Homo sapiens: one gene and its partners. The protein of the gene in region 7 purifies or fractionates together with the protein of the main gene of each other region. This does not show direct contact. Each region holds a gene or a part of one and is shown on either strand. Other genes may lie near its edges. The genes, in order: SLC25A24, RRN3, SLC25A23, POU2F2, ACAD10, SFXN5 and TMEM108.

Region 1 (4,199 bases), on a different chromosome or scaffold from region 7:
ATGAGAACAAAAGGGCTGGCAAAGTTCCTATTGGGGGATGAGGAAGCCATGCCACATTTTTACAAATGCAACATAATGCCAAGCTCAAAGACAAAATACTGTAAAGTACAATCTCTGCTTGCATAAATTTATTCTCTTGACTGGGAGACAAGACTAATAGGTGAGAAACAAATATGGCAGCATTTTTCTAACAAAGATTCCCTGAGAACAGAGGAGCAGATGCTGGCAATTGCACACAGAGCTGCCTTGTGCAGCTGTGGACAGGGACAGGTGTGTGGGCAGGGAACTGCCAGTGTCTGCTACAGCCATCTCACCTGTCAGGTATCCAGGTAAGCAAGAAGCTTACAGAAATAACTGATAAGTTATTTCTGAAGTCTGGATAGTATTGGAGTTGAAATGCAGAATTTCTCTGCAGTCTTATGTTTTAATTTTTAAATCAAATTTTGGATGTAATCTGCATTATGAAATTTTAAAAAATTACTTACCAGTGAATTCAACTTAGAATTTTTTCCCACAATTTCAAGACAAACTGATACTCCACGGCAAAATGAGCCTGGCCAATCCTGAGGCTCTGGGTCCCCCTTGGTACTGTGAACCCCAGGGCTGTAACTCTAATGGGTAAATGTGGAATTTTGATATCACAAAAAATATCACCTTGTGTCAAAATGCATCATACAGACAATATCTACAAGGGCTGCTCAGGAAAGGCCAAAATGTTTGGAAAGACTACATGGAGCCAGCTGTAAAAAGCATGATTCAAACTGGTGCCAAACATCTAAGCTAGCTAAGCTGTAGGATACAATTTTTGCTTTATTTATAATTTTTTTTTTTCAATTAGGAAACTGAGACTTAAGAATTTTCTCTAAAAAAAATAAAAACTGGAAAACAAGTAATTTTAGAAACAAATATATATTTTTGATAGAAACTGTAAGTAAATATTCAGTACTACCAGAAATATACTATCTTCAACTCTCGGCTTTTTTCCAAAAGATACAGAATCATTTTTTGGAAAAGATACAAGATGTACAGACAAATCACATTCATACCTTACAATTTAAATTCATAATGAACAATGAATATTTTCATATTTTCCAGAAGTTTGAAATTTCAAAGTTGTTAGCAAAATTATTCATTTCCATAATTTTTACGAGTAAAAATAGAAAGAGCTGATCATGTACCTTAATATTGTCACTTTATATATTACTCAAAAGTACAAATAACCCTAAAAGTAGAATCCCAGGCTTATCATATTATAAAAATACTGAGACATTTATCAAACATAACTAATATAAATGAAACTACATTTTTAAAAATGTTTCACAAACACCAGTCCATCTTTCTCTTTGGTTCAGAAAATAAAAGAGGTAGGTTCAAATAAAGAAAATGCCTATTACATCATTAGATTTTCATTAAAATGCTGGAAATTTATAACAGAAATTATTAGAAGTGAAATGAGTTTAAGAACTAAATTAAAAACTGATAATAACTTCAACTAGTAAATATTTTTCTAAGTTCTAATCACACAAATAAGAAAAGATAGTTGACTATAAAAATGGCTTTAGTAAAATAAAAAAATGCTCTCATTATTATAAATTAAGTCTCCTATATCCTAACATGTTCCTAAAACTTGGGGCAAGAGAGAATATGAATGTATATGTTTACAAATTGGGCCTTTCATTTAAATATAGGTATCTAATGTATAAGAGTAATACATACTACTATTAATATGTATCTCTCACCTTTGTGCTGCCCATATTGAAAACAGCAAGTTCAAAGATATTCAACAGTGAGGGAGAAATAAGCACATCATTTGCTCATGATCAATCCACTTCATGCAATTAAAAAAGAAATTTCAGGTTACTAAGAATGGTCCCAAGAAGTCTTCCTGACTAAAACGGAATCTGATTCAAAAGGTAGGAAACAAAGGACAAAGGAAAACAAAGATGCTCTGCAGAAGCTGATACAAGTCAAAGGATTTCGTTTCCTGCTGCTTTTCAAAGCAATGGCAGGATAAACGGAATCTTTCAAATAAATTGCCTTGTGTTGGTAATTTAACAGTAATATACTGAAAATTAGTGTATAACTCCAGGAACCAAATAATGGTACAGTGGTAAAATGGAAAAGTGCCCACTGAAATAAATATAATTTCATCACTTCCCTTCAGAAATTCCACCACTGTGTTCATTCGTATTCAGCTGAAAGAAAAATAAGGACATAAACCCTATACTTATTTGGATGCTTTTGCTGTAAGGTATATTTTAAATGTAATGATTTTCTATTAATGGTTCTATAAGGAAATTTAAAGAAATCTATAAAGACATTCAAAATATATAAAACAAGAAATTTAAATATAAAGGAACTGGCATAAACGTAAACCACCCGAAATAAAGATTAATGATTTATAACTCTAACACACAAAACAAATTTTGTTCAAGCCAGTACATTTTCAGATTTCGGATTCAGGGCAGAGATTTGCAGGATTATTAAGAAAAGATAAAGTATAATTGTGTGGCCTTTTCAAAACACATTAAAACTATGATTTTGAACATTTCTGTGTACATATAATTTAGCCCAAAAGTTTGAAGTGACCATTGTTACCATCTTCCCTTTTGTGAAAAAAATGCAGCTTCTTTTGCCATAGACTTGTTTCAATTCGAGGAGAAAAAGTCACTCCAGAGATTGTTGAAAGTTTCAATTATCAGGCTAAAGCAAAAAATGCAACATCATTTCTGGGTTACTCCTAAAGTTTGCTTCATATTTTCATAAACCACATAACTGATGCCTACAGCAGGGAGCACCTTCATGAAGTTTGGGGTGATGCCTCTGTAAAGTCCTGGTATTCCTTCTTTGGAAATAATTCGTCGAAAGAGGCCAACCATATTCAGCTGTGGGGAACCTTCTAACATGGCTAAAAAATAAAAAAAGAGGGTAATTTAATATTCAAGTATGTTTCATTATTATGACAACAAACAATTATGACCCAGAATGATATTCTAAAATACAGTAAAAGGACAACATTTATTCCAAGAAGCCCAAGACAACATCCCTTTTATGATCCTCTTTGTATAGCACCTAACAGTGAGTGTCCTAACTATAGTAATGATGGTAATAATAGTTATTTATTAATTACTATGTTCTAAATACTGGGTTAATTACCTTCCATACCAATCTTGCAAGGTAAATGTTATATCAATTTTGTAAGTGAGCAATTGGAGGCTTAGAAAGATGGAGAAATTTGTCCTAAAAAAATCTAAGTAGAAAATGGTAGGGCTGAGATCCAATGGTCTGACTCTAAAGCTGGTACACTTTCCACCACCCCACAGTGCTGCTGCTGCCTCCTTCTTACTAGACAAGCGCTGAAGAGAGAACAGTTAAATCTCAGGAAGTAAGGGGAGTATGGAAGAAGCTCTGGGAAGCTTGGGAAAAAGCACAAAGACCTGGGCCTTGGAAATGACCTCAACAAGCAGGAAGAGAAAGCGAAAACCAGTGTTGCTGGCACAACCAAGACAACGGGAGGAGTACCATGTGCTATGGAGATGCAGCCAATTGTTGTATGTGGTTATTACACAGAGAGTGAACAAAGTGGGGCTAGATTATTAAAGGCTTTGAAATTCCCACTAACAACTTTGGAACTGACACCGAAAGGCTGCAAAGATGTCTGAACAGATGTAAAATGATCAGACTTTTAGGTCAGAAATGACAGTCTATCAGCCATAGACAATCTATCAGCCGTATCAGTCATGCAAAGTTCTGGATCAGAGCTGGCAGACAGGAGGGTTAGAATCAGACTGCATGTGTCTGAATTTCAGTCCCACTATTTACCACAGGTATAATCTTGTGGGAGTTACTTAAATTCTCTCTGCCCCAGTTGCTCATCTGAAAAATGGGGATAATGTTAGTATTCCCATCCCCAAGATGGTTATGATGGTGAAATGAGAGAATACACAAGAAACGTGTAGTTCACTACTTTGTGTTTTTCTCTACAGCCATGACTGTCTCTCAGCTCCTTAAATACACCATGTTGGTGCCTGCCTCAGTGTCTTCACACATGCTTTCCCTCAACTGGAATGTTTTCTGTTCCCACTCCACTGGCCTGTGCCCAGCTAACTCCCACTCATCTTTCCAGTCTCAGCTTCACTGACAGCATTCTGCAGCGCCCAAGTTAGGTTATAGCTCCTTGCTCTGTGCTCCCCTAACAA
Region 2 (4,199 bases), on a different chromosome or scaffold from region 7:
CTCCATGTTGGTCAGGCTGGTCTCGAACTCCCGACCTCAGGTGATCCGCCCGCCTCGGCCTCCCAAAGTGCTGGGATTACAGGCGTGAGCCACCGCGCCCGGCCAGAACTGGAACTTACAATGTATAGCTTCTGAGAAAATCTATAACGACTTAGAGAAAATAAGGTTCTGTTAACTCTGATATCAACAGCAAATCAAAGAGGGAGCTTCTCTCCCACAGAAACATAACAGCACTTTTGCTGACATTTCCCACTACACATGTATATTATTTTTAAAAGAAGAAAAAATCATCAAGTTGGATTTTTTTTAAGTTAACAAATAATCAACGGACAGAGGGAACTAGAGGTCCACCCCTCCAAAAGAAACCCACAAACCTGAAAAGCTTTTCTTAGAAGTGCAATTTTTATTCATATGGCATGACACAAACACACCCAGGGGTTTCTCACTGAAAAATTTTGGATAGCATATCTGTTGAAGATAAAAGCAAAATTCCAACCACCATACAAAATTGGGGGAGGATCTGCATACAAACTTTGAAAAACAATTAAAGAGAATAAATAGAAAATGGAAATGCCACTTTTTGTAGAATGTAATGTTTCCTCAAGTGGATACAAAAAAAACATGCAATGTAAGACTCAAGCTTTAATACTATTAACATTTTATAATTTTTACTAATTGATTACAATTTTCTTGAGAATTAAACATTCAAAATAAGGAAAAGTATACTCACGATGGTACATATCTTGCTATTATTTGCAAGGCTCTGTGACATGTGTCAAAATTTGCAGGAAGATCTGAAAGGAGAAAAGTTCAGAGTATGAGCATCAAAACAAAACTGAAGGGCGACACGCTTGAAGCTAAAAATAAATGCTGGCTGGGCACAGTGGCTCACGCCTGTAATCCCAGCACTTTGGGAGGCCGAGGTGGGTGGATCACCTGAGGTCAGGAGTTCGAGACCAGCCTGACCAATATGGTGAAACCCCATCTCTACTAAAAATACAAAAATTAGCCAGGCATGGTGGCAAATGCCTGTAGTCCCATCTACTCAGGAGGCTGAAGCAGGAGAACCACTTGAACCTGGGAGGTGAAGGCTGCAGCGAACCGAGATCACACCACTATACTCCAGCCTGGGCAACAGAGCGAGACTCTGTCTCAAAAAACAAACAAACAAAAAGTGACATACTTGAAGCTAAAAACACATGCTAACCAAAACGGAATAATTTATCAGAGAAATAATAATTTCAAGATTTTTCTCCACCAGCATCAACGAAAATTAAATGGACTAATTATATAAATAATGCATTCAGGACAAATGACTGCATATCAATGGTAAATATAACAAAAAGATTACATCAAAGGTTGTCATTTGTTGCAGTCTACTTATTAGAATAGGTGCCAGGTATTCTGTGCTTTACTTTTTTTTTTAAAGAAGACAGTGTCTTGCCACCAAGCAGGGCTTGAACTCCTGGGCTCAAGCAATCCACCCACTTAAGCCTCCCAGGTAGCTGTGACTAAAGACACACACTACCCTGCCTAGTTCTACTTTAAGCCTTTTTTAAGAAAATATTTGAAAAAAAATGTTTTTTTGCAGAGACAAGGTCTCACTATGTTGCCCAGGCTGGTCTCAAACTCTTGGCCTCAAGTGATCCTCCCGTCTTGGCTTCCCAAAGTGCTGGGATTATGGGTGAAAGCTACTGTGCCCAGGCTTTAAACCTTTTTATACTTACTATCATCTTCATCATCAGAATCTGAAACATCTACATCGCCTTCCTTAATGATCACTCGGGCTTTTGAGGGAAAAAGAAAATATGTTATTCTGTCATTGATCTAGACAATGAATGGCTATACAAAAAAAGTTACTGACCTAGACAATGAACAGCTATAAAAAAAGTTATTTTTCCATAATCCAAAGTTAGCCCAATGATTAATTAAACGCACAATCTGAAAAAAAGTAAAGCAACTTTATAGTTTTTAAACGGCTAAAAATTCCTAGATTTCACCAGGAGTTCAATAAAGCAAATAAATTCATAAAACTCACAGCAACAAATGAATCTAGACACCTCCATAGGGGTCATTACGGGGAATATATGTCTACCAGACCTGGTGCCAATATGCATCTGGAATCTTCCATGGTAGCAGTCTCTCATATATAAGGGGAAGGTAGTATTTTAATAAAGAAGTATTAAAAAGAAAATAAAATTCCAAGCAATGACTTACGAGGCACAAAATGGGAAGCAATCATGCTGAGACACGGTCTGAGGAAAACAGTCTGTGCTGATACAAGATTACCAAGAAAAGCCAAATACTCTTCCACTACTGTTTGACTTCTATTCAACCAAGGCAATCTCTAGAGTGGGGGAAGAAAGATAAAAGCAGCATGTTATTAATATAACATATACTATTACCAAAGTTCTGAATTACATACTTTACAGTAAAATAAATGGTGAACTTACTAATATAATACTGATAAGTTGCTCAAAGTCTTTTGTCAAGTACATGATAGAAGAACGGAATTCTAGCAGCCAGTTGATGATCTGGTCATCCTTAAGTTAAACAAAGAGTACTTTCAAAATCACAAATCCTCTAACATAACAGAAATTTACAGCTATCTTATATCAATCATTTATCAAGAATAGGTTGGGGGGAAAAGGTCACAAACTTGGAAGGAACTCAAAACTGGGTATTAAAACAGAAAAAGATGTCACAATAAATTACTTAACTGTTTTAAGAAAGTAATCTAGTAACTCTAATACACAGGAGAAAGACTTAAATGCAATACTTCAGCCTGATCACTTCTGTTTGCCCTGAAAAAGCGAAATCACCTCAAATGTTGACACCTGGGACTTTTAAAAACTGCAGCATTCTAGCAGACTGAAATATTAGAAGATCACAAAGGAACAATAGCTACCTCTATTTCCTCTATATTCAAGCTGACCAGGAAGCATGCTGATAAAACTCAGTCGAGGCTGATCAATTGGGGTCATGAATAAACATAACTTTTCTAAACCAAACCTGTGGCTGAGTTTAAATATATTATGATGTGATTGTTCTGTATAAATGATAGCCCCATTCCTCCATGAAATATTTTTCGGGCAATCAAATTACTGTTCATAGTAATTGTTAGTGACATGAGAAGAACTGCTAAATTTGAAACGCAATGTATAAAATACAGTGTCAATTATGTAAAATATTACTATATTAATTATATTCATGCATATATACTGCACAGGAAAAAAACCATTAAGAAAAAGCCCCTAATTTGTGGAAGGCTTAGACATATAAATAAAAGCAACACAAGGTCATACCTACAGGGATATTCATATGGAGTTATCATTTAGTGAGAATACACCATATGCCAGGCATGGTGCCTGACACTCCACATATATATCTTCTTCTAATCCTAAAAACTCTGCAAGATGTTTAGTTATTCCCATTTTGCTGTTCAGGAAGCTGAGGCTAAGAACGATTAATAAGCAATCTGCCCAACCAAGAGGCCAGTAAAGAAGCAGGTCCAAACCCGTCTGTCTCGGTCAAGGCTATCCTCTGTCCACCGTCCCACACGCCTCCCTATATGCGGAGAAGAAGCTGTCCCCTTTTCCCCACCTTAATTCAGCTACTGAGTGCTTACTATGCCATATCCATGTGTCAAACTCCCACAGATCAACCATTTTCTGATGAAATCCCAAGTAGCCTGGCAGTAAAATAAAGTAAAACCACAACTCATTTGTACTATGGTAATTTCATATGTCCACAACTGTTAAGGATAACATTAACGGTAGCTCACTAAGGCCAAAGGCATGTAGAAAACAAGCTAAGTTAGTGTACAAATAAAATAAACTATCCTATCTCTTTTCCACTAAAAAGACTGCAACAAAACTATAAGGATAACATTTAAACTGTACCATTTTTAAAAGTAAATCAGGCTGGGCGTGGTAGCTCATGTCTGTAATCCCAACACTTTGGGAGGCCGAGGTGGGTGGATCACCTGAGGTTGGGAGTTCGAGATGAGCCTAACCAACATGGAGAAACCCCGTCTCTACTAAAAATACAAAATTAGCTGGGCGTGGTGGTGCATGCCCGTAATCCCAGCTACTCGGGAGGCTGAGGCAGGAGAATTGCTTAAAAAACTCGGAGGCAGAGGTTGCAGTGAGCCAAGATCATGCCACTGCACTCCAGCCTGGGCAACAAGAGCAAAACTC
Region 3 (3,928 bases), on a different chromosome or scaffold from region 7:
CTGAAAATACAAAAATTAGCCGGGTGTGATAGCAGGCGCCTGTAATCTTAGCTACTCGAGAGGCTGAGGCAGGAGAATCACTTGAACCCAGCAGGCATAGGTTGCAGTAAGCCAAGTTCGTGCCATCGCACTCCAGCCTGGGCAACAGGAGTGAAAACTCTGTCTCAAAAAAAAAAAAAAAAAAAAGGGCTGGGCATGGTGGCACACGCCTGTAATCCCAGCACTTTGGGAGGCCGAGGTGGGCGGATCACCTGAGGTTAAGAGTTCAAGGGCCGGGTGTGGTGGTTCACGCCTGTAATCCCAGCACTTTGGGAGGCCGAGGCGGATGGATCACCTGAGGTTGGGAGTTGGAGACCAGCCTGACCAACATGGAGAAACCCCGTCTCTACTATAAATACAAAAAAATTAGCCGGGCAAGGTGGCGCATGCCTGTAATCCCGGCTACTTGGCAGGCTGAGGCAGGAGAATTGCTTGAACCCGGGAGGCGGAGGTTGCAGTGAGCCGAGATTGCACCATTGCACTCCAGCCTGGGCAACAAGAGCGAAACTCCGTCTAAAAAACAAAAAGTGGGTGGAGGGCAGGGAGGAGCCTGACTTAGACTGGAGCACCAAGGAGGAGTCCCCTGGGGAGCTGGCTCTGGGATAGGGGTTGGGAATATGAGTAGGAGTCAGCTGGGAAAGGAGGGAGGGAACCTGGCTCCAGGAGGAGGACATTTCTGTCCTTTCTCACCTTGCACACCCATACCTGCTCCATTTCTAATTGTCCCCAAACTTGGGGCGAAAAGGTGAGCAGCCAGTTCCAAGGTCAATACAAGTCTCGACTCTGAGTGGTAGGTCCCACTGTTAGTCTAACCTCCTTCCCTCCTGCTGCAATGACACCACCTGGCCCAACCCTGGGGGTAGGAGGGGGAAGTGAAAGGGGAACGTTGGCCTTACCTGGTGCCCCCCCCGCCCCCTCCCAGCCTCCATCGAGGGTGGCCCCCAGCTGTCCATGCTGGGTCTGCTACGTCACATCCTGTCCCAGGAGGGCATGCGGGGCCTCTACCGGGGGATCGCCCCCAACTTCATGAAGGTTATTCCAGCTGTGAGCATCTCCTATGTGGTCTACGAGAACATGAAGCAGGCCTTGGGGGTCACGTCCAGGTGAGGGACCCGGAGCCCGTCCCCCCAATCCCTCACCCCCCACACCTCAGCCACTGGAGACTGATGATCCAACCACAGGATCCCTACTCTTTGGCCACGAGATCCCAGTACCCAGATCCTGGATCCTAGACTCCTATGCCCCAACCATTGGGTCATGGGATCCCAGCATCCAGATCCTGGATCCTAGACTCCTATGCCCCAACCACTGGGTCATGCGATCCCCACCCTTCAGCCACTAGATCCCAGATCCCCCTGTAACCATAACTGTGGATCCCTTACTTCAGCAACTCAAGTCTGCTACCCTAACCACAAGATTCAAGATTATCCACACCCCAGCCCTTAATCCCCATCCCCCAAATCACTGGATCCTGCAGCCCCACATCCTAAGGTGGATCCCACGCTTCCCTGTGCCCCCTACTGGATCCTGGACCTCTACGTCTTAACCACTGGATCCCACACAAATCAGTGAATGGATCCCAACACCCCAACCACAGGAGCACGGATTCCCTGTACCTCAACACCCAGACCCTGCCTCCCTCAGGCACCAGATCCAGTGTCCTAGTGAAACGCTGGATCCTAGATCCCCAACCCCAGATCCCCATGCCTCGAGCCCTGGATCTCCAAGCTCAGCTGCTGGATTCTGGATGTCAACAAACCTCACCACTGGATCCTGACAACCACAATGCCTGGATCCTGGGGCCCCCATCACTGGATCCCAGATCCCCTCACTCCACCCACTGGATTCCTGCATTGGTTTTTGGTTTTTTGTTTTTTTTTAACCTCGACACTGGGTCTCAGATCCTTCTGCTGACTGCCAGATCCCTGCATTTCAAGCACTACGCCTTCCACCCCCAGGCACTGGATCCCAGATTCCCAAGCCTTCACCCACCAGATTCTGGCTCCTAAAACAAGTGCGGGGGCCCCAGTGGCACAGCAAGTGGATCCTGGCAACTGCAGCTGCTGGATTCCAGATTCTGGGTCCCCAATCCCTCTGCCCAGTCCCTCAATGTTGAAACCTCATCTCTTGAAGGCAGATCCTGATATTCCAAGGCACTGAATCCCAAGCCCTGAATCCCCGGTTTCTGATCTGAATCTTCCAGGCGCCGGGTCCCAAATGTTCAGGCCCCAAGTCTAGATCCTGGCAGCCCAGTCACAGAGTATCCCACACACACTGGTGCCCAGAGCCGGCTTCTCATGACATGAAATTGCATGGTCGAGGGAGTCTGTGGGGAAGGAAGCCCAGGTCCTGGCTGCAACCTGCACGGATGCTGGATTCCCCCTCACCCCACCTCTGCATGGCCACCCCCTCCCAGCCCTGTGGGGAAACTGTTCCCTGGAACCACTCCACTCCCTGCATCCCCACACTTCACAGCATCTTCCATCCCCCTCCCACCTTCTAGGCGAATAGTCCCCAGAGCTGTGTTCCTCCAAGGGGTCCGAGGAATCACTCACTCCTGGAGGCTGGCAAGGAGACAGTCTGAGGCCAGGGACACATGAAGGGATGTCCCCACCCCAGCACTATCAGGGCCTCCCCAGGCTTCCAGAGTTGAAAGCCAGGAGAAAATCGGCAAAGACCACCCTTCCCTAAACCCAAGCACCCAATGATGCAAAAAACAAAAACAAAAAAAAACCACCAAATCCCCAAATTCATTCCAGATCTATTTTTCTACCAGAGAGAGGAGCAAAGTCCTCCTCCCCTGCGCCCTTACATTCTGCACTTCATAGTTGGATTCTGAGCTTAGGATCATCTGGAGACCCCATGGAGGGACTTGGAAAGGGGAACTGGGATTTGGGGAGGGGCTGGAGGACTTCCGCACGCTTCCACCTCCTTCGACCTCCACTGCGCCCCACCTCCCTGCCTGTGTGTGTTATTTCAAAGGAAAAGAACAAAAGGAATAAATTTTCTAAGCTCTTTTATTGTGGTTTTTACTGAAAAGGGGGTGGGTGGCTATGGGACCACCTTAGTCTACCCCTAGGGAAGGGACAAGGGGCTGCTTCCCAACACCCACAGTTCCAAGAGCCAGGAAATGATTCCCTCTTTGAGCCTCAGTTTACACATCTATAAAATGGGAGCAGGGGAGGGAGTCCCTGTTTATAACCCCTTCTAAATTTTCTGGGCTTTATTATTTTTATTTATTTATTTATTTTTGAGATGGAGTCTCACTCTGTTGCCCAGGCTGGAGGGCAGTGGCACGGTCTCAGCTCACTGCAACCTCTGCCTCCCGGGTTCAAGCGATTCTCCTACCTCAGCCTCCTGAGTAGCTGGGATTACAGGCACCCACCACCACGCCCGGCTAATTTTTTGTATTTTTAGGAGAGACAGGGTTTTACCATGTTGGCCAGGCTGGTCTCGAACTCCTGACCTCAAGTGATCCACCTGCCTCAGCCTCCCAAAATGCTGGGATTACAGGCGTGAGCCACCACGCCCGGCCTCTGTATTTTTTTTCAAATTACAAATTTCAATTTTTTTTCAAATTATCCTTTTCCTAGGGCTGCCAGACCAAATTATCACAAACAGAATGGCTTAAAACAATTTGTGTGTCTGTGTGTGTGTGTGTGTGTGTGTGTGTGTGTGTGTGAGAGAGAGAGAGAGATAGGATCTCACTCTGCAGCCCAGGTTAGAGGGTAGTGGTACAATCGTACCTGACTGCAGCCTCGAATTCCTGTGCTCAAGCGATCCTCCCACCACAGCCTCCTGAGTATCTGGGACCACAGGGACCGCAGGCACACGCACCGTTATGTCCAGCTAATTTATTTTTGAGACAGGGTCTCGCTCTGTCACCCAG
Region 4 (4,199 bases), on a different chromosome or scaffold from region 7:
CCTGACTTTGGAGCAGTAAAGGCGGGAATCCTGCCTGATCCTAGCTCTAGTTCACCCAGACCTTAGCCCTACTTCAGGCAGCCACTAACTCTAACCCGGTCCTAAATCCCACCCCTCCTAGCATCCCTAAAACTGCAGCCCCAGCCTCCTCTGGCCTCCGTCCCTCCAGCGGAGCTCCACATTGCCTCAGGGCAATCCTTTCCTGGCTCCTCCCTATCTCCTGGAGAAATAAACAACCTGGCCTCCAGGGGCTGGCCCACCACCCTGTACTGCTCTTCTCTTGCAGCTCATGCACAGTGCTCTTCACCCATGTCGAGCATCTCCCCCTGCTTGGGGGTCTGCTTGACAGCAGGCTGTGCAGGTTCTACACTCCCACCTAGCTGGGCATCCCTCTCCCGTCCACAGAACAGGGCAGCCTCGGACCCCACTGCCAGCCCAGAAAGTCCACACTCATCCTTAACCTCTGCTATGGGCTAAGTTGCATCTACCAAAATTCATACACGGAAGTCCTAATTCCTGATACCTCAAAATGTAATTGTATTTGGAGATAGGGTCTTTAAAGACGTAATTAAGGTAAAATAAGGTCATTAGGGTGGACCTTACTACAATCTGACTGGCATCCTTATAAGAAGAGGGGGCGGGCGCGGTGGCTCATGCCTGTAATCCCAGCACTTTGGGAGGCCGAGGTGGGCAGATCACCAGTTCAGGAGTTTGAGGCCAGCCTAACCAACAATGTGAAATCCTACCCCTACTAAAAATACAAAAATTAGCCGGGCATGGTAGTGTGTGCCTGTAATCCCAGCTACTCAGGAGGCTGAGGTAGGAGAATCACCTGAACCCAGGAGGCAGAGGTTGCAGGCAGCCGAGATCGTGCCACTGCACTACAGCCTGAGTGACAGAGCAAGACTCCATCTCAAAAAAAAAAAAAAAGAAGAAAAAGAGGGAATTAGGTCACAGATGGGAACAGAGGGAAGACCATATGAAGACCCAGGAGAAGACCAGTGGACCACAAGCCAAGGAGAGAGGCCTTGGAAGAGACCAACCCTGCTGACATCCTCGTCTTTAACTTACAGCCTCCGTAATTGTGAAAATGAATTTCTCTTATTTCAGCCACCTAGTCTGTGGTACTTTGATGTGGAAGCCCTAGCAAACTAAGCCTCTCACAGCCCCTGCCCTCCTGCTGTCCCATCCCTGAGCCCCCAGTTGTGGCTGTCTGTGTCCAGGTTCCTTCCCCACAAGACCAATGCGACAGGCCTGGTCTGACTCATCACTGGGTCCCCAGCATCACAAGCCCAGAACGGGTTGTAACTGCTGAATGTCCCTCTCTTTAGCAGTCTCTGTTTCCTACTACTTCTCACCCTTGTCTTACTGTCTCCCTGCTATTTATTTTATTTAATTTATATTTTGAGACAAGAGTCTTGCTCTGTCGGCCAGGCTGGAATGCAGTGGCACAATCACGGCTCACTGCAGCCTCGACCTCCTGGGGTCAAGCTATCCTCCCATCCCAGCCTCCTGAGTAGCTGGGACTACAGGTGTGCACCACCACATCCAGGGACTACAGCTGTGCACCACCACATCCAGCTAATTAAAAAAAAAATTTTTTTTTTTTGTAGAGACGGGTCTCCTTATGTTGTCCAGGCTGGTCTCAGACTCGTGGGCTCAAATGATCCTCATGCCTTGGCCTCCCAAAGTTCTGGGATTACAGCCATGAGCCACCATGCCTGCACTTTGCCATTTAAAACATTTCCTGAGGCCTTGGCATGGGCTGTTCCCTCTGTCTGGAACACTGTTCCCCAATCTGTCCACCTGGCGACCCCCGGACTCATCCTTCAGAACCCAGCATAAGCTCTGTTTTCTTTTCTTTTTTTTTGAGATGGAGTCTTGCTGTGTTGTCCAGGCTGGAGTGCAGTGGTGGGATCTCGGCTCACTGCAAGCTCCAGAGGTCTCCTGGGTTGAAGCAATTCCCTGCCTCAGGCTCCCAAATAGCTGGGATTACATGTGCGCGCCACTACGACTGGCTAATTTTTGTATATTTAGTAGAGAAGGGGTTTCACTGTGTTAGCCAGGATGGTCTCAATCTCCTGACCTCATGATCTGCCCACCTCAGCCTCCCAAAATGCTGGGATTACAGGCGTGAGCCACCACGCCCGGCCATAAGCTCTGTTTTCTATGAAACCACCACCTTGATGCCCCCAGCTCCCAGCCAGGTCTCTCTCCAGCTCCCCATACCCTAGCACCTTCCCTTGTCACTGTCTTAGAGGCTGACTGTAGCTAGCCGGGCCCCACTATGTCTCCCCTATCAGACTAGGAATTTTTCAAGGGCAGATCTGATCTCAGGTTCCTAAACACTCCCCAGCAGAAGACATGTGGATCAGTGGCCCCAAGGTCCTGATCTCCCTCCCCCAGGCCTTTGCCTCTGCTCGTCTCCCACTTGGGTGACCCTTTCCTTCTCTACTGGCAAACTCTTGCTCCTCTTTAAGGTCCAGCTCAAATGTCACCTCCTCTGTGAAGTACTCTCTGATTCCCCAGATGGTCAGTGTCTCTCTCTTCTGGGCTTCACTGACCCTGTACTGTGCTCCACCACATCCTGATCATCCTGGGCAGAGACCTCCACCCCAACTGTGGGCTCCTCAGGAGCCCAGGCTGGAGTCATTGCTGCACAGGCCTAGGAGTACGTCTTTGGAATGAATGAATGCATTAAAGAATCCCCTAACTGACCAGGGCCCAATCCTGTCTAAAACAAACCCCTATCTCTACTGTCACCCAACATCCCCAAGAAACCCTAACTTAAATCTTTAAGGTATGATTTCCTCTGCAGAGACTGTGGCTGGAAAGACAAGAGTGGTTTGAGGGAAATTTTTCACCATTCTGTTACCCTTATTCTCCCTAAATTATCCCAACCACTCCTACATATCCCTGCATACTCCCTGCCCCACACTTGGCTGGGTCACAACAAAATGGCCAACTGCTGCCCTTTGTCTTTTCTCTTTCCACCTCCCCTGTCAGAGCTCAATCTGAGAGAAGGGTCAGATCATTTCCACCAGGAATGAACAGGGAGCTCCATTTCCACCGTGGACTAAAAGCCAAATGACGCCTTAACAGGGACTCCAGGGCACTAGCAATCATAGACTTGGAGGGTCCATCAAATGGCTCGGCCTCAGCCTCAGCCTGAGCCCAGGCAGAGATGCCCATCGCCTATCACTCAACTCTAGAAAAATATTGATGCCTGTTCCCACCCTAGACTCTGATTTCAGTGGTACAGGGTGTGACTTGGGCATCCAGATATTTAAAAGCCCCTCCAGGTGATTCTCTTTTTTTTTTTTTAGACAGAGTCTCACTCTGTCGCCCAGGCTGGAGTGCAATGGTATGATCTCAGCTCACTGCAACCTTTGCCTCCTGGGTTCAAGCGATTCTCCTGCCTCAGCCTCCCGAGTAGCTGCAATTACAGGCATGCATCACCATGCCCGGCTAATTTTTGTATTTTTATTAGAGACGGGGTTTCACCATGTTGGGCAGGCTGGTCTCGAACTCCTGACCTCAAGTGATCCGCCCACCTCAGCATTCCAAAGTGCTGGGATTACAGGCATGAGCCACCGCACCCAGCCCCCTCCTGGTGATTCTAATGTGCTCCATCCCCTGGCACCTTCAGAAGCCCCTCTCAAAGCCTCATTCACACACAAAAGATTGGTTGGTTATGTATGGCTATTCCCACCCCTCATCATAGGTAATGTGTAATATTTTAGGGGAACTGAAAGAGAAAAAGCAATGCATAGCCCTACCAGGCCCCTTGGAGCCATGTTGCCCCTTGAATCCCACCTTCCTCAGGTCAGACACCCCTCAACCAGGGCTGCCCAGCCCTGAGCTCACACTCACTTGCCCGACTGCCCCAGGCCTGGGACTCTTGGTCCTCTCCACCCTCCCACTCCTCCCTCCCCGGACTTTCACTTCTCCTCTGCATTTCCCCCCGCCAGTTTTAGCAGACTTAGGCCAGCTTCTCGTTAGCACTTACCGAAAACGGGGCTAAATATAGAGGGCCCAAGGACTGCCCCTCACCCCTCCTGGCCCCACTTGTCCTGTCCCCTGGGTCCCCTGCCTCCGCAGCCTGCTTCAATTAGGGGTATGGCCTGGGAGCCCCTGTGGGCAGGTTGGTGCTGCCGGGAACCTCTGTGGGCCCAGCTGGCCGAGCCCCCGTCCTCCCC
Region 5 (4,199 bases), on a different chromosome or scaffold from region 7:
ATGACACCATAGAGAGAATGTCTTGGAAACAGATACCCCTTCTCTAAGCTCCAGTTTTCCTGGCCAGTACCAAATATCTCAGCTGTTCAAACAAAAATGATTTTAAAGCTAATTGTAGAAGACAAATGTACAGAAGTAATATTTATGTTTGTATAGTTGGTTTTTTCCCCATTCATCATACGTTTTTATATTATTCTTTCAAAAAATGGATTTTGTTGTTTTTACATGAGAAAACTAAGCCATTTCCTCAGTGTGTCTGGCTGGCTTCCCAGAGGGAGGGAAAGGAGTGCACAGTAAGATAAGAGGAATAAAGGCCTGAACAAACAGACATTTTTCTGTCTGGTGGCAAACAGGTGGGGTGTTTTAGCTCTGGGCCGAGAGAAACCAGAAGCCACAACGATGGCTCACAGGATCTTAAAAACATGTCAAAGGGCTTCCTGAGAGACAGGCTGAGGACACTCAGTGTGGAGACTCTAAAATGGGCAGTCTATTAAGCTTTTCCCAGGTCACTGGAGCAGAGCAGGGAGAAAACTTGGCAGCCGGCTAGGAAATATCAGAGGTGACCAGGACTATTCATCACCATAAGGACTTAGCAGCCATTCTGTTTAAGTAAATATTTCTGGTTAGTGTTTATTGGAAAACTATAAAAAAAATGGGAAATAGTGGCTTACAGCTGATACTGTATTTTCCTAAAAGAGGGAAAATATTGTTTCCAGAAATTCCTGCTTCCAGCATCCCCTGCTTATCAGACCAGGTACAGTTAAACTAGAAATTCTCTGGGTACTGGTTTTTCTCCGGACAGTTTTTCTCATGACTGTGTATCTCCAGGACCACCTAGCACAGTGCTGGCTTTTAGTAGAGGCTCATATACTTGGGAATGAATGATCAATTCCCCTACTGCAACTGCTTCTCTCAGAAGACTCTGGCAACCTGGCTGAGAACACAGGCTGCCAGCAAGCTTGGGGTGTCACTGACTGCAAAGCTAAACACTCCATCAGCACTAGCAAATCCCATGATGAATTCCTTTCTCCTTCTTTCTCCTTGCCTTTTGTTTTTAAGTTTTGCTTTTGGAAAATTTCTTTTTCTTTTCTTTTTTTTTTTTTTTTTTTTGAGATGGAGTCTCGCTCTGTCACCAGGCTGGAGTGAACAGTGAAGCAATCTCGGCTCACTGCAACCTCTGACTCCCTGGTTCAAGCTATTCATCTGCCTCAGCCTCCCTAGTTAGCTGGGATTACAGACACCTAGTAGCTGGGATTACAGGCACACACCACCAAGCCCAGCTAATTTTTGTATTTTTAGTAGAGACGGGGTTTCATCATGTTGGCCAGGATGGTCTTGATCTCCTGACCTCGTGATCCCCCCGCCTCGGCCTCTCAAAGTGCTGGGATTACAGGCATGAGCCACCGCACCTGGCCTTTTTTTTTTTTTTTTTGAGATGGAGTCTTGCTCTGTCACCCAGGCTGGAGTGTAGTGGCACGATCTCTGCTCACTGCAACCTCTGCCTCCCGGGTTCAAGTGATTCTCCTGCCTCAGCCTCCCATGTAGCTGGGATTATAGGCGGCATCACCACACCCAGGCAATTTTTGTATTTTTAGTGGAGACGGGGTTTCACCATGTTGGCCAGGGGTCTCAAACTCCCGACCTCAGGTGATCCACCTACTTCGGCCTCCCAGTGTGCTAGGATTACCGGCGTGAGCCATCATGACTGGCCTCCTTTTGGAAAATTTCAAAGACACACAGGAGTAGAGAGGAGAGAATAACAAGCCTACGGGTTCTACTGCTCGCCTTCCGCAATGATCGATGCCAGCCCAGTCTGGTTTCATTCCCTGCCATCCCCACTCCCACTGTCCTGGATTTTTTGGAGTAAATCCCAAATATCTCATCTAGGATTCTTTCAAAACTCTAAAAACAAATGTTTTTTAAAAAACCCACAATACTATTATTACCCTTAAAAAATCGTTAACTGTTAACTTCTTCATATCATCGACTATCCACTCAGAATTCAAGTTTCAGTGACTATCATCAAAATTTTTTCCAAATAATTTGTTCAAGAAAGGATCCAAATAAGGTCCCAACACTGTAACTGGCTAACGTATCTTTTAAGTCTCTCCCCGCTCCCCCCACCTTTTTTTTTTCTGAGACAGTCTCACTTTGTTGCCCAGGCTAGACTGCGGTGATGCAATCATGGCTCGCCGCAACCTCCGCCTCCTGGGTTCAAGCAATTCTCCTATCTCAGCCTCCCGAGTAGCTGGGATTACAGGTGCCCGCCACCAGGCCTGGCTAATTTTTATATTTTTTAGTAGAGACAGGGTTTCCCCATGTTGGCCAGGCTGGTCTCAAACTCCTGACCTCAGGTGATCCACCCACCTCGGTTTCCCACAGTGCTGGGATTACAGGCGTGAGCCACCACGCCCAGCCTGATGTTTCTTTTAAGTCTCTCTCAATCTACAGGTTCCTTTTTCACCCTTTTCCTCCCCTTGAAATGTAAGTGTTTGAAGAAACTGAGTTGTTTGCCCTGTGATGTTTTCCAGAATCTGGATTTTGTGAGTGCTGTGCCCAGGGTGCTGCTGAACATGTCCCTCTGAACCCTGTGTTTCCCATGAGTTGGCAGCTAGCACTGGAGACCTGGGCAGAGTCAGTGTAACTTTTGAGGGAAGCATCAGGAGGTATATAATGTCTGGCTGTCTGTCTCTCAGTGGTGTTGGCTTTCATTGAAGCTTATTGCCCACATCCATTAATGCATTAGGAGTTGCAAATTGGTGATATGCAAATTCTATATTATTCTGTCCAGGATACTTCTCTAGAGAGAAACATTCCCTCATTGATTATTTGGATAGCCTGCAGTATCATTTGTACAGGAAAGACAGGACAAATGCTTGATTCCCCACCCCCCCACCCCATTTTCCAATTTTCAGAATAATAAGTTGCTTTCCTGGCAACCTCTGAGGTCATCAATGAGACTTTGTCTCTTTGTTTTTGTATCACTACTCATGGACTTATTTATTTAATTTTTATTTTTGGGGGGACAGTGTCTTGCTCAGTCACCCAGGCTGCAGTGCACAGGCGCGATCTCAGCTCACTGCAACCTCTGCCCCCTGGGTTCAAGTGATTCTCTCTCCTGCCTCAGTCCCCTGAGTAGCTGGGATTTTAGGCGCCCGCCATCACACCTGGCTAATTTTTGTATTTTTAGTAGAGATGTGGTTTCACCATGTTGGCCAGGCTGGTCTTGAATCCCTAACCTCAAGTGATCTGCTCACCTTGGCCTCCCAAAGTGCTGGGATTACAGGCCTGAGCCACCATGCCCGGCTACTACTCATGGATTTAAACATACCTGATGTGTTTCATCCATTTCAGCTATCATCCTTGGTGATGCCCAAAGTTTCCTATTGTTAGCAAGTGGGAGCCTGTTCAGGTTGGCTCCCAAGTCTTTTTTTTTTTTTTTTTTTGAGACAGAGTCTCATTCTTGTCGCCCAGGCTGGAGTGTAGTGGCACGATCTCGGCTCACTGCAACCTCCCCGTCCCAGGTTCAAGTGAGTCTCCTGCCTCAGTCTCCCAAGTAGCTGGGATTACAGGCACCCGCCACCATGCCTGGCTAATTTTTGTATTTTTAGTAGAGACACAGTTTCACCATGTTGGGTAGGCTGGATAGACAAGATGAACCTGGAACATTTTGTCATACTAGCGAGCAAGGAAGTTGTCAAAGACCACAGGGGTTTTACCTAAAGACTTGGGGACTGGCCGGGCTCAGTGGCTCATGCCTGTAATCCCAGCACTTTGGGAGGCCGAGGTGGATGGATCATCTGAGGTCAGGAGTTCGAAACCAGCCTGGCCAACATGGCAAAACCCCATCTCTACTAAAAACAAACAAAAAAATGACGCGGGTATGGTGGTATGTGCCTATAATCCCAGCTTCTTGGGAGGCTGAGGCATGAGAATTGCTTGAGCTGGTGAGGTGGAGGTTGCAGTGAACCAAGATCGCACCACTGCACTCCAGCCTGGGCGACAGAGTGAGAAACTGTCTCAACACACACACACACACACACACACACACCAAGAAATTTGCCTCATATAGTTGTTAAATATGCAAATGGTCACACACATATTTCACAGAAATTCTTAAGCTTACAAAATTTTAAAATCAAAGTACCGAAAAATACACATAGGATGATCACATTTGTGTAAAAGTAGGAGGAGAGAGA
Region 6 (4,199 bases), on a different chromosome or scaffold from region 7:
CCTCCTCCCACCCCACAGCTGCCATCCCTCCCCTCGCAGGACAGGACCCCACCTGGCTCCACCTCCCCTGCCCACTCCGGGGCCCCCTCCTGGGTCATCCTCCCTCTCTCCCACCTTTGCCCGTTAGTGTTCCACATGCAGGAACCTTCTCTGATGACACCTCCCCTTCATCCCAAGGCAGGCCCAGCTACTACCTGGTCTCTCTCCTCCCCAGCAGCCACGTTTCTTTAAAAAACTTGGTCTACACTGGCTGTGTCCACCTCCTTCCCTCCCACTGACTTTTCAACCCACAGTAAATCTGGCTTCTGTTCTCACCACACTCCAGAAAAATCTTTCTCTCCAAGGTCACTGCCACCCCCCACTTCACGACACCCACTGCATGCTCCTCGGGGTCCTTGGGGCTTGGTCTGGCTGGGCCCTCTTCTCTGCACATGCCCTGGGTTACCCCCACACAAGATTTCTGCAGCCTTGTTTCTCCCTGGAGCCTCAGGTTCACAGCCGCCTGCCTGCCAAACTTTGCTGTGGATGTCTCACAGGCGCCTGAACTCAACCCACCTGAAATGGAACTGAACCTGCCCTCTCCCCTGGCCCCACTCAGCTCTCCATCTCGGGAATGACGCCGCCATCCAGTGGTGCTCTGCCCAAAGACTCTGGAGCCTCTTTGCGTCCTCTCCCCGTCCCTCCCCACAAGGTCTCATCCAGCCCAGTCCGTCCCCAACCACAGCCAGTGCCGGCCTTCTAAACTGCAAGTCTTCCCATGCCTCTCTTCACTGTGAAATGGCTCCATGGCACCCTGATCCTCAGGGATCAAGTCAGACTCCCGCGCCACCCTGCTCCTTGGACTGGAGACACAGGGCACATGGACTGATTTTGGTTCCTCGCACACCCTGGGCTCTGTCCCCACTCCAGTCTTTGCCTGAGTTGTTCAGAGACACCCCGTCCTACTTCCATTCCTGCCCCTACTCTGCTCTCCCGTCTTCAGCTCATCATCTTTCGTGTCTCAGCTTTAGACACCTTCCCTCCCCTACGCTGGGCGTGGCCACCTCTGTGGCCCCCATAGCTCCCTGAACTTCTCATACCCCACCTCTCCACATTAGATCACAAGCTCCCTGAGGCAGCGGACGTGCGGATCTGTCTCGCCCCTGTGTCCTCAAAGCCTAGCACAATGCTGGTCCACAGTAGGTGCTCCCTCAGTGTGGAATACATGGGCAGAAAGAAAAGAGCACTGGAATAGAATAGGCACTGGAAGACGGGGTTCCCCTGGAGACACCACATCAGCCCCGATGTTGGGCTTTATCTCCAGGGACTGAGCCCGTGGGGATGCCTGAGCCCCTAGCTAGAGGGGGGCAGGTGAGAAAGACACTACTGCAGTGAGAAGGTCCCCGCCGGACATTTGCCCTGGACAGAGTCAAGGAGGCACCAGGCCTCTTGCAACTTAGGTTGGTTGAACTTGGTTCTAGACACCCGCCATATGTCAAGATGTGGCAACCCTGGGAAGTGGGCAGAAGGTGGTACAGGCCAGCCTGGCCTTCGGAGAGCTCTGTCATGTCTGGGCTGTGCACATTGGAGTCCCCATAAGAGGGAGTGTAGTGAGGACTAGAGCTGGTGGGCACAGTGGGAGAAGAGAGGACCCTTCCTCTGTAGTCGCTGGTACCCCGTTACCCAAGTCTGGTCACCCGAGAGGGCCAAACAGAGGAGAGCCAGGCTGAGGGCCCAGGCCTCTTCGCCACTCCGTCTTCTCAAACCACCTTCTCCCACCCCACCCCTGCCACCCCCAGTCCCCTCCACCCTGCCGGCTCCCCTCGTCCCCACGCTGCCACTGACACAATGCACAGCGCCCACGCTTAAAAATCTAAATGCTTTTGAAAATGTTTAACCTAGTTAGACAAATTAGCAAAAATTTGTGCAAAACAATTTAGGTATTTAAAATATTCAATGTTTTTAAAAAACTGGAAAACTGTTCTTAGCTTTCAGCTGCAAAAACCAACAAAATATAACATCCCAGCAATCTTACCATGAGGTGTAACATAACCCTTCGGGAAAGCTGTTAAACAGCTACTGAGGCATCCTGGGAAATAGCACTTCATTTATTCAAATGCACATATGTCAGGCTTTTGCACCATATGTCATTCCAAGCTATTTACAGTAATAATTAAATCTTAATCAACGTTTAACCTCTGTAAAATGTTTGAAGAATCCTAATCACCCTTCAGACTGCACTAATGAAGGAGAAATATATAAACATAAAAGGAAAATGATGCATAGATATCACGCTGGAAAGAACAGTAATTGCAAAATTGTATTTCTTTTAAATATAATCAGTAAATGATGTAAAGTAAGCCAAGGAGTATTTTAAGTTAAGACATCTTGGATGTCAGAGGTGTGAGCAGCTAATTTTGTTCTGCTACCCATAACAGATGTAGCATATTTTATTTTAGTGCCATTATTAGCAACTTCCCATGCCGGCTTTCACTGAAGCACTGAGGCCCACATTAAAATCAGAGAGGCTGCTCAGCACCACCATGCAGGACCACGGCCCAGGGCCACGGCCCACTGTGCCCACTCCCTAGAGCATGCTGGCCCGGGGGAGACCGAGGCCTCCTCCTCCTGGCACCCCGTCTCCCATGGGCTCCCCGCCACACACAGGGCAGCAGGTAGGAGCAGGGGGAGATGCAGGCAGTGGGAAGGCTCCTGGGGGAGGTGGCTGAGGGATCAGGAGCAGGGGCCCCAGGACAGAGCTGACATCCTAGGCTTCCTCTCTCAAGTCAATCCACCCTCCTGTCAGCAGATGTTGATGGTCACCAACTCCAGACACCCAGGCTGGGCACACAGAGGGGGACAAGACCAACTCATGCCCTCTAGAAGCTTAAAGTCTAGAGAGGAGTTGGCTGGTGAATGCAGATGGAGTCCAGAGAGACAAGCAGAGTGCCATGGCAACTGGGGAGGGGTTGGGAGTTCCAATGTATTGATAAGGGAACAAGGAATGAAGACTTCTCAGAGGTGGTGAGCCAGGAAGAGAATGGAGGATTTTGATCAGAAAGGGCAGGCCAAGCTTGCTGGGTGAAGAAAAAAATATTAGCTGGCTAGCATGGCCTGTTTCTGGGAGGCGGGGCAATGTTGGACTTGGAAATGTGGCAGGAAATGGAGGTGTGGCTGGGACAGGCAGAATCTTGTAGGCTACATGAAGGTGTCAGCATTTTACCTGAGGGCAATAGGGAGCCACAGAAGGACTTTGAGCAGGAGTGGACCATAACCCAGCCTCTGTTTTTATTTTTTTCTTGGGATAGGATCTCGCTCTGTCACCCAGGCTGGAGTGCAGTAGTGTGACTGCAGCTCACTGCAGCCTCAAACTCTTGCCTCAGCCTCCTGAGTAGCTAGGACTACAGGCACATGCCACCATGCCTGGCTAATTTTTAAATTATTTTAAAAATTTTTACAGAGACAGGGTCTCGCTATGTTGTCCAGGCTGATCTTGAATTCTTGGCCTCAAGTGATCCTCCACCTTCCAAAGTGTTGGGATTACAGGCATGAGCCACCGTGCCTGGCCTTAGACTGTCTTAGAAAGGTCTCTCTTGGGATGGTGGGTGTGGAGGATGGACTGGAGGGGTAAGGAGGGGGTGGGGAGGCCTCCTGGGGAGCATCTGTGGGAATCAGAGAAGTGCCAGGTCCTGCCCTATGATGCTGCCAGTGGGGGAAGACAGGAGGAGCCTTTCTGAAGATGAAATCCACAGGAGTTGATGACCAATTCCACGTGGGGGTGAGAGGGAGGTGTTGAGGATGACTGTGCGTTGGATGACTCCTAATTCTAGCTCAGGAGCTGGGGTGGCTGGTGACGCCATTCTCGGAGGGAATATGGGAGGGGATGGGCCAGGGTTGGGGGTGGTAGGCTCAGGATGGCCACATGGAGTCTGGGGTGCCAGTGGGTTCCCCAGGTGGACAGGCCTGGGAGGCAGATGGGTCCAGGGCTCTGGAGCTCTGGGCAGGAGAAAGCGCCCGGGATGTGTGAGCATAGCCAGATCCTTCAGAGTGGAGGAGCTCGCCCAGGGAAGCAGATGGAGGGGTGGGTGCCAAGGCCTGGGGAACAGGCACATTTGAAGGGCAAGCGGAGGGAACAAGCCTGTGATGGTGGCCTTGGGGGACCAGCCCGAGGAGCGAACGTAATGACAGAGGGTGCCACAAACACTGAGCAGCCATGAGCG
Region 7 (4,199 bases):
GCACTGGAAACTCCCTGAGAGAAATATAATCAGGCCAGGAGCATGAACATGTGAGGGGAAGACAGCGTGGAGCAGAACTTTCTGTTCTGACTCCCAGGCCTTCCCGCAGGGCAGGATCTCTGCATCTGGCATTCTAACAACATGGGCTGTTAGAGCACTGGACTCGGGGGCGGAGGACTTGGATTCTGCAACCTCTACCAGCCCAGGTTAGCAGCATGGCCTTGAGCAAGTTCACCTCTCTAGGTTTCCATGCCCCACCTTCTAGAATAAGAATGTAGGCTGGGGGAAGGGGCTGATTTGTTTCAGCACCTACTGTGCACCAGGGACAATTTGAAGTGCTGGCAGATGTATGACTGCATTTAATCTTCCCAAGGAAGCTGACGCTGAGAGAGGTTAAGTAACTTACTCAAGTCATGCAAGTAATAGATTGTCACCTAGATTCTAATTCTAAATTCGATGTCCCTTTTGCCCTATTGACTAGGCCTAAGATGGCATCTGTCACTTTGATTCTGTTTGCTTATAACTGCTCAGTAGATCAGAGGCACAAATATCTTTCTACCTTAGAGAGGCGTGCAAACTATACAAATCTGACTCACAGATACACTTTTCCCCTGCCAGCCTGTGTTCTGTGTCTATGGCAGTGTTTTGTGGGGCATGATGGGATGTGCCCCTACAGGCTGATAACTGAAGAGCTGTTCTGTTTGTCCTGATTGCTCCCCTCCCTCTAGCTCTAACTCTACCAAAACTGAGCTGGAGCTGAGGAAACAGCACTTTTCCCACTTCCCAGATGGTTCCCTCTTTATGGCTTCTGTCACACCAGCTAGAACTCCTCCAGGTGTTTCACCATGCCAGCTGCAGGAGCAGAGTGAAAGGTAGTGACAATGAAGAACAGAGACACCAGAGAAGGGGACAGGGGACCCGGGATCTTGTCCCAGCTCTGCCACTCACATACCTGTGACCTGTGGCAAGGCGGCCAGCACTTTAGGCCACAGTTTTTCCTCTAGAATAAGGAGGCGGCCTGAATTAGCAAGTTTCAGGCTGAGCACCACAGCCCCCTCCTTGCCCCTTTCCTCTTCAACCATCTGAAGAAAGGGTTTTTTGGAAGGAAGGGAGGGAAAGAGGAAAGAGATCCACAATATTTGAAAAGTTCTGTACCAGCTAATCTCTCAAATCCCCGTTAGCCCTAACACTCAGAAATTCCTTCTATGTTTTAAAGATTTTTTAAAAAGGATCTAGAAGACTGAAAAGCAAATTAGAAGTCTTTTTGATCAAAGCAGATAAGATAAAGTAGAAACTTACCCTATCTCCTAACCTTGTACAGAGACCTTTCCAGGTTGAGAGGCCAGCAAGGCTGGCAGCTGGAAAGAAAGCTACAGAATTCCCCAGGCAGCCTACAGGGCCCTGGGCTCTGGGCTGTGAGGTCTCAGCCTATACAGGTGCCAGCTTGTGCAACTGCCCCACACCCTGGCATGAACCCACCCCTGATGCTGGCCAGACCCTCAGGCTGCTGCGAACAGAGCTGGCCCTCTGCCAACCCCCGGTGCTGGCCTCTCTGGACAGCCCAGCCTGGGACCCCGACTCCCCAGCACAGAGATGGTTGGCACCACCAGGATGTCAGATGTGGCTCTTGGCTTCAGCTCTCCTCATCCCCAGAGGCTCTGGTGATGATGAACCTGGGGCAGGATATACTCAGTCCTCACTTCATGGCTTCTCCCCAAGAGGCCTCTGTCACCCTTGTCCTTGTGTTACCCTTCTGCAGTGTGAATCTGGACAGGCCACCCCACCTCTCTGACCTCAGAAGCCTTCCCTGCTCACAAGCCACTCAATTCACACATGGTTAATCAACAATATCGAGACATAATTCTTCCTCCTGGGCCCTGGGAGTCTCAGGGATGAACAGACAGGGTCACATGTCACACTGTGCTCAGTCAAGCTGTGTGGAGCCCACCTCAGGCCATCTGTGCAGGTGGGCTTTTGCATCAATCTAAGGCAGGAATCAGCTGGTAAGAGCATAGACTGGCCAGGTGCAGTGGCTCACACCTGTAATCAATCCCAGCACTTTAGGAGGCTGAGGCAGGCGGATTACCTGAGGTCAGGAGTTCGAGACCAGCCTAACCAACATGGCAAAACCCTGTCTCTACTAAAAATACAAAAATTAGCCAGACATGGTGGCAGGCACCTGTAATATCCCAGCTTCTTGGGAGGCTGAGGCAGGAGAATCGCTTGATCCCAGGAGGCAGAGGTTGCAGTGAGCCAAGATTGCGCCACTGCACTCCAGCCTGGGCAACGGAGCTAGACTCCATCAAAAAAAAAAAAAAAAAGAAAAAAAAAAACCATAGACTTTGGAGTCCAGATGTCTGGGTTTGCTTTTGGGCCTATCACTTTACCTCTCTGAGCTTCAGTTTTCCTATCTGTAAAATGGGGATCCTAACAGTACTGACTTTATGGGGCTAAATAGAGGATTAAATGAATATTTCTATGTCCTTGGAACCATGCCTGGGACGTAAGTCCTATATAACTATTAACACAGGATTTTTTGATGATGATGATGATGATGATAGTACCAGAAAAGCTATTTTATCAGCATTCAAGACTTCTGCCCCGTGATTTTGCTCTGTGAACTTCTGCTGTAAAGGTCTTCTGTGGAATTAAGGCTCACTTTGTACAGTTCACCATGCCCTGCCCCTTTTCCCACCATACACTTACTCCAGCTGGGAACTCTCCTCATCAGTTCGGTGGTGCAACCCAGGCACCATCCTTGCTGCCTCCCTCTCCTCTCTGACTTGCACTCTCTCCATAGCTGTCCTGCTGACGGTGTGCTGCATGAAGAGGAAGAAGAAGACCGCCAACCCGGAGAACAACCTGAGCTACTGGAACAACACCATCACCATGGACTACTTCAACAGGCATGCTGTGGAGCTGCCCAGGGAGATCCAGTCCCTTGAAACCTCTGAGGTAATGAGCTTGAAAGTGCTGGCCCCACTGCAGGGAAACCAGGTCCAAAGAGAGCCATGGGGCATCTGCTCATTTCTGAGTGCCTTGCTCCTTAACGTATGGCCCATGGACCAGCAGTATCAATAACACCCAAGAGGTTGTAGGCCCTACCCTGGTCCTACTGAGCCAGGATCTGTGTTTTAGCAAGAATCCCCAGGTGCTTTCTGCACAGTAAATTTTGGAAGCACTGTTCCTGGGACTTTTGGTTTCTGGGAACAAGTGAACAAATACTCAGTGAGGACCTGTTTTGTGCCGAGCACTCCCAGGGCACTATGAAGATGAGAGCTTGCTCCTAAGGGGCTCAGGTTCTGAGATGTGGCTGGAGGACAAACCCCAACATCACCCAAAAACAAAGCCAATTAGGGGAAACACAAACACAGACGAGTTATAGACAAAGAGCTGTGGAAACCCAAGGAGGAAAGCCTTCCCAGTGCAGATGCTAGGAAGGATTAATGGATTTCAACAGGCATTCCAGCAGAGGAGGTAGCCTGAGGAAAGGTGAGGATACGTGCTGGATCTGAAGGGAAAGAAGAATACACTGTCAGCATATTTGCCCAAGACACCTGGCTGGTCAGTGAGTGAGCTGAGCTTTGAACCCAGGACTTTAACCACAGAATCCATACTCTTTCCATCCTCACACGGAGGGTGGCGTAGAGGCCAGAGTGAAACAGTAAAGAAGGATAAAGGCCCAATTAGACACAGCCTTAATGGGGTATTATGGCATTGGGACTCTAGTTTGGGGCAGCAGAGAGTCACTGAAAGTTTTGATCTTTGGGTGACCCAGTTTTAGAAGGATTATGCTGATGGCCTGGTGAAAGCACCCTATATGTGATCAGCGAATGGATAAGGAAAGAAAATAATGGCTTGATGGATGAGTAAATAGATGGAATGACACAGAAAGACAGACTAAAAATAGGTAGCTCAACTAGGATGCAATTGAGATGGCCCAGGAGAAAGATAACAGACATCTGAGTAAGGCAGTGAGAGCTGAGAAGAGTTCTTGTGGAGGTGCAACCCCACCCCTCCTTCCCGTGTGGGTCCCTTCCCCAGAGCAGCCAAGGTGAGCTTTTGTAAACATAACTGTGGTCACATCGCTCACATGCTTAAAACCTTCTCATTTCTCTCCAGTTAAAGTTCAAAGTCTTGTATAGGACCTGCAAGGTAGACCTAGACCCAGGCCAACTTTCCAGCCTCACATCACACCC

The links.
Region 1: the proteins of TMEM108 (region 7) and SLC25A24 purify together in Homo sapiens (affinity purification with mass spectrometry; 2 studies listed by BioGRID and IntAct, with this or other methods). This does not show direct contact.
Region 2: the proteins of TMEM108 (region 7) and RRN3 purify together in Homo sapiens (affinity purification with mass spectrometry; 2 studies listed by BioGRID and IntAct, with this or other methods). This does not show direct contact.
Region 3: the proteins of TMEM108 (region 7) and SLC25A23 purify together in Homo sapiens (affinity purification with mass spectrometry; 2 studies listed by BioGRID and IntAct, with this or other methods). This does not show direct contact.
Region 4: the proteins of TMEM108 (region 7) and POU2F2 purify together in Homo sapiens (affinity purification with mass spectrometry; 2 studies listed by BioGRID and IntAct, with this or other methods). This does not show direct contact.
Region 5: the proteins of TMEM108 (region 7) and ACAD10 purify together in Homo sapiens (affinity purification with mass spectrometry; 2 studies listed by BioGRID and IntAct, with this or other methods). This does not show direct contact.
Region 6: the proteins of TMEM108 (region 7) and SFXN5 purify together in Homo sapiens (affinity purification with mass spectrometry; 2 studies listed by BioGRID and IntAct, with this or other methods). This does not show direct contact.

The regions. Positions count from the first base shown.
Region 1 is NC_000001.11:108,133,930-108,138,128, forward strand, and holds the end of SLC25A24 (mitochondrial adenyl nucleotide antiporter SLC25A24), read right to left. Parts: intron 2,909-4,199; coding exon 2,724-2,908; 3' UTR 114-2,723; downstream 1-113. UniProt on the Homo sapiens protein: Electroneutral antiporter that mediates the transport of adenyl nucleotides through the inner mitochondrial membrane. Originally identified as an ATP-magnesium/inorganic phosphate antiporter, it also acts as a broad specificity adenyl nucleotide antiporter.
Region 2 is NC_000016.10:15,083,912-15,088,110, forward strand, and holds part of RRN3 (RNA polymerase I-specific transcription initiation factor RRN3), read right to left. Parts: intron 2,544-4,199; coding exon 2,454-2,543; intron 2,348-2,453; coding exon 2,218-2,347; intron 1,788-2,217; coding exon 1,728-1,787; intron 795-1,727; coding exon 731-794; intron 1-730. UniProt on the Homo sapiens protein: Required for efficient transcription initiation by RNA polymerase I (Pol I). Required for the formation of the competent pre-initiation complex (PIC).
Region 3 is NC_000019.10:6,439,193-6,443,120, reverse strand, and holds the end of SLC25A23 (mitochondrial adenyl nucleotide antiporter SLC25A23), read left to right. Parts: intron 1-961; coding exon 962-1,146; 3' UTR 1,147-3,057; downstream 3,058-3,928. UniProt on the Homo sapiens protein: Electroneutral antiporter that mediates the transport of adenine nucleotides through the inner mitochondrial membrane. Originally identified as an ATP-magnesium/inorganic phosphate antiporter, it also acts as a broad specificity adenyl nucleotide antiporter.
Region 4 is NC_000019.10:42,125,528-42,129,726, forward strand, and holds part of POU2F2 (POU domain, class 2, transcription factor 2), read right to left. Parts: intron 1-4,199. UniProt on the Homo sapiens protein: Transcription factor that specifically binds to the octamer motif (5'-ATTTGCAT-3'). Regulates IL6 expression in B cells with POU2AF1. Regulates transcription in a number of tissues in addition to activating immunoglobulin gene expression.
Region 5 is NC_000012.12:111,737,694-111,741,892, reverse strand, and holds part of ACAD10 (acyl-CoA dehydrogenase family member 10), read right to left. Parts: intron 1-4,199.
Region 6 is NC_000002.12:72,946,062-72,950,260, forward strand, and holds part of SFXN5 (sideroflexin-5), read right to left. Parts: intron 1-4,199. UniProt on the Homo sapiens protein: Mitochondrial amino-acid transporter. Transports citrate. Does not act as a serine transporter: not able to mediate transport of serine into mitochondria.
Region 7 is NC_000003.12:133,387,380-133,391,578, forward strand, and holds part of TMEM108 (transmembrane protein 108 isoform 1 precursor), read left to right. Parts: intron 1-2,800; coding exon 2,801-2,955; intron 2,956-4,199. UniProt on the Homo sapiens protein: Transmembrane protein required for proper cognitive functions. Involved in the development of dentate gyrus (DG) neuron circuitry, is necessary for AMPA receptors surface expression and proper excitatory postsynaptic currents of DG granule neurons.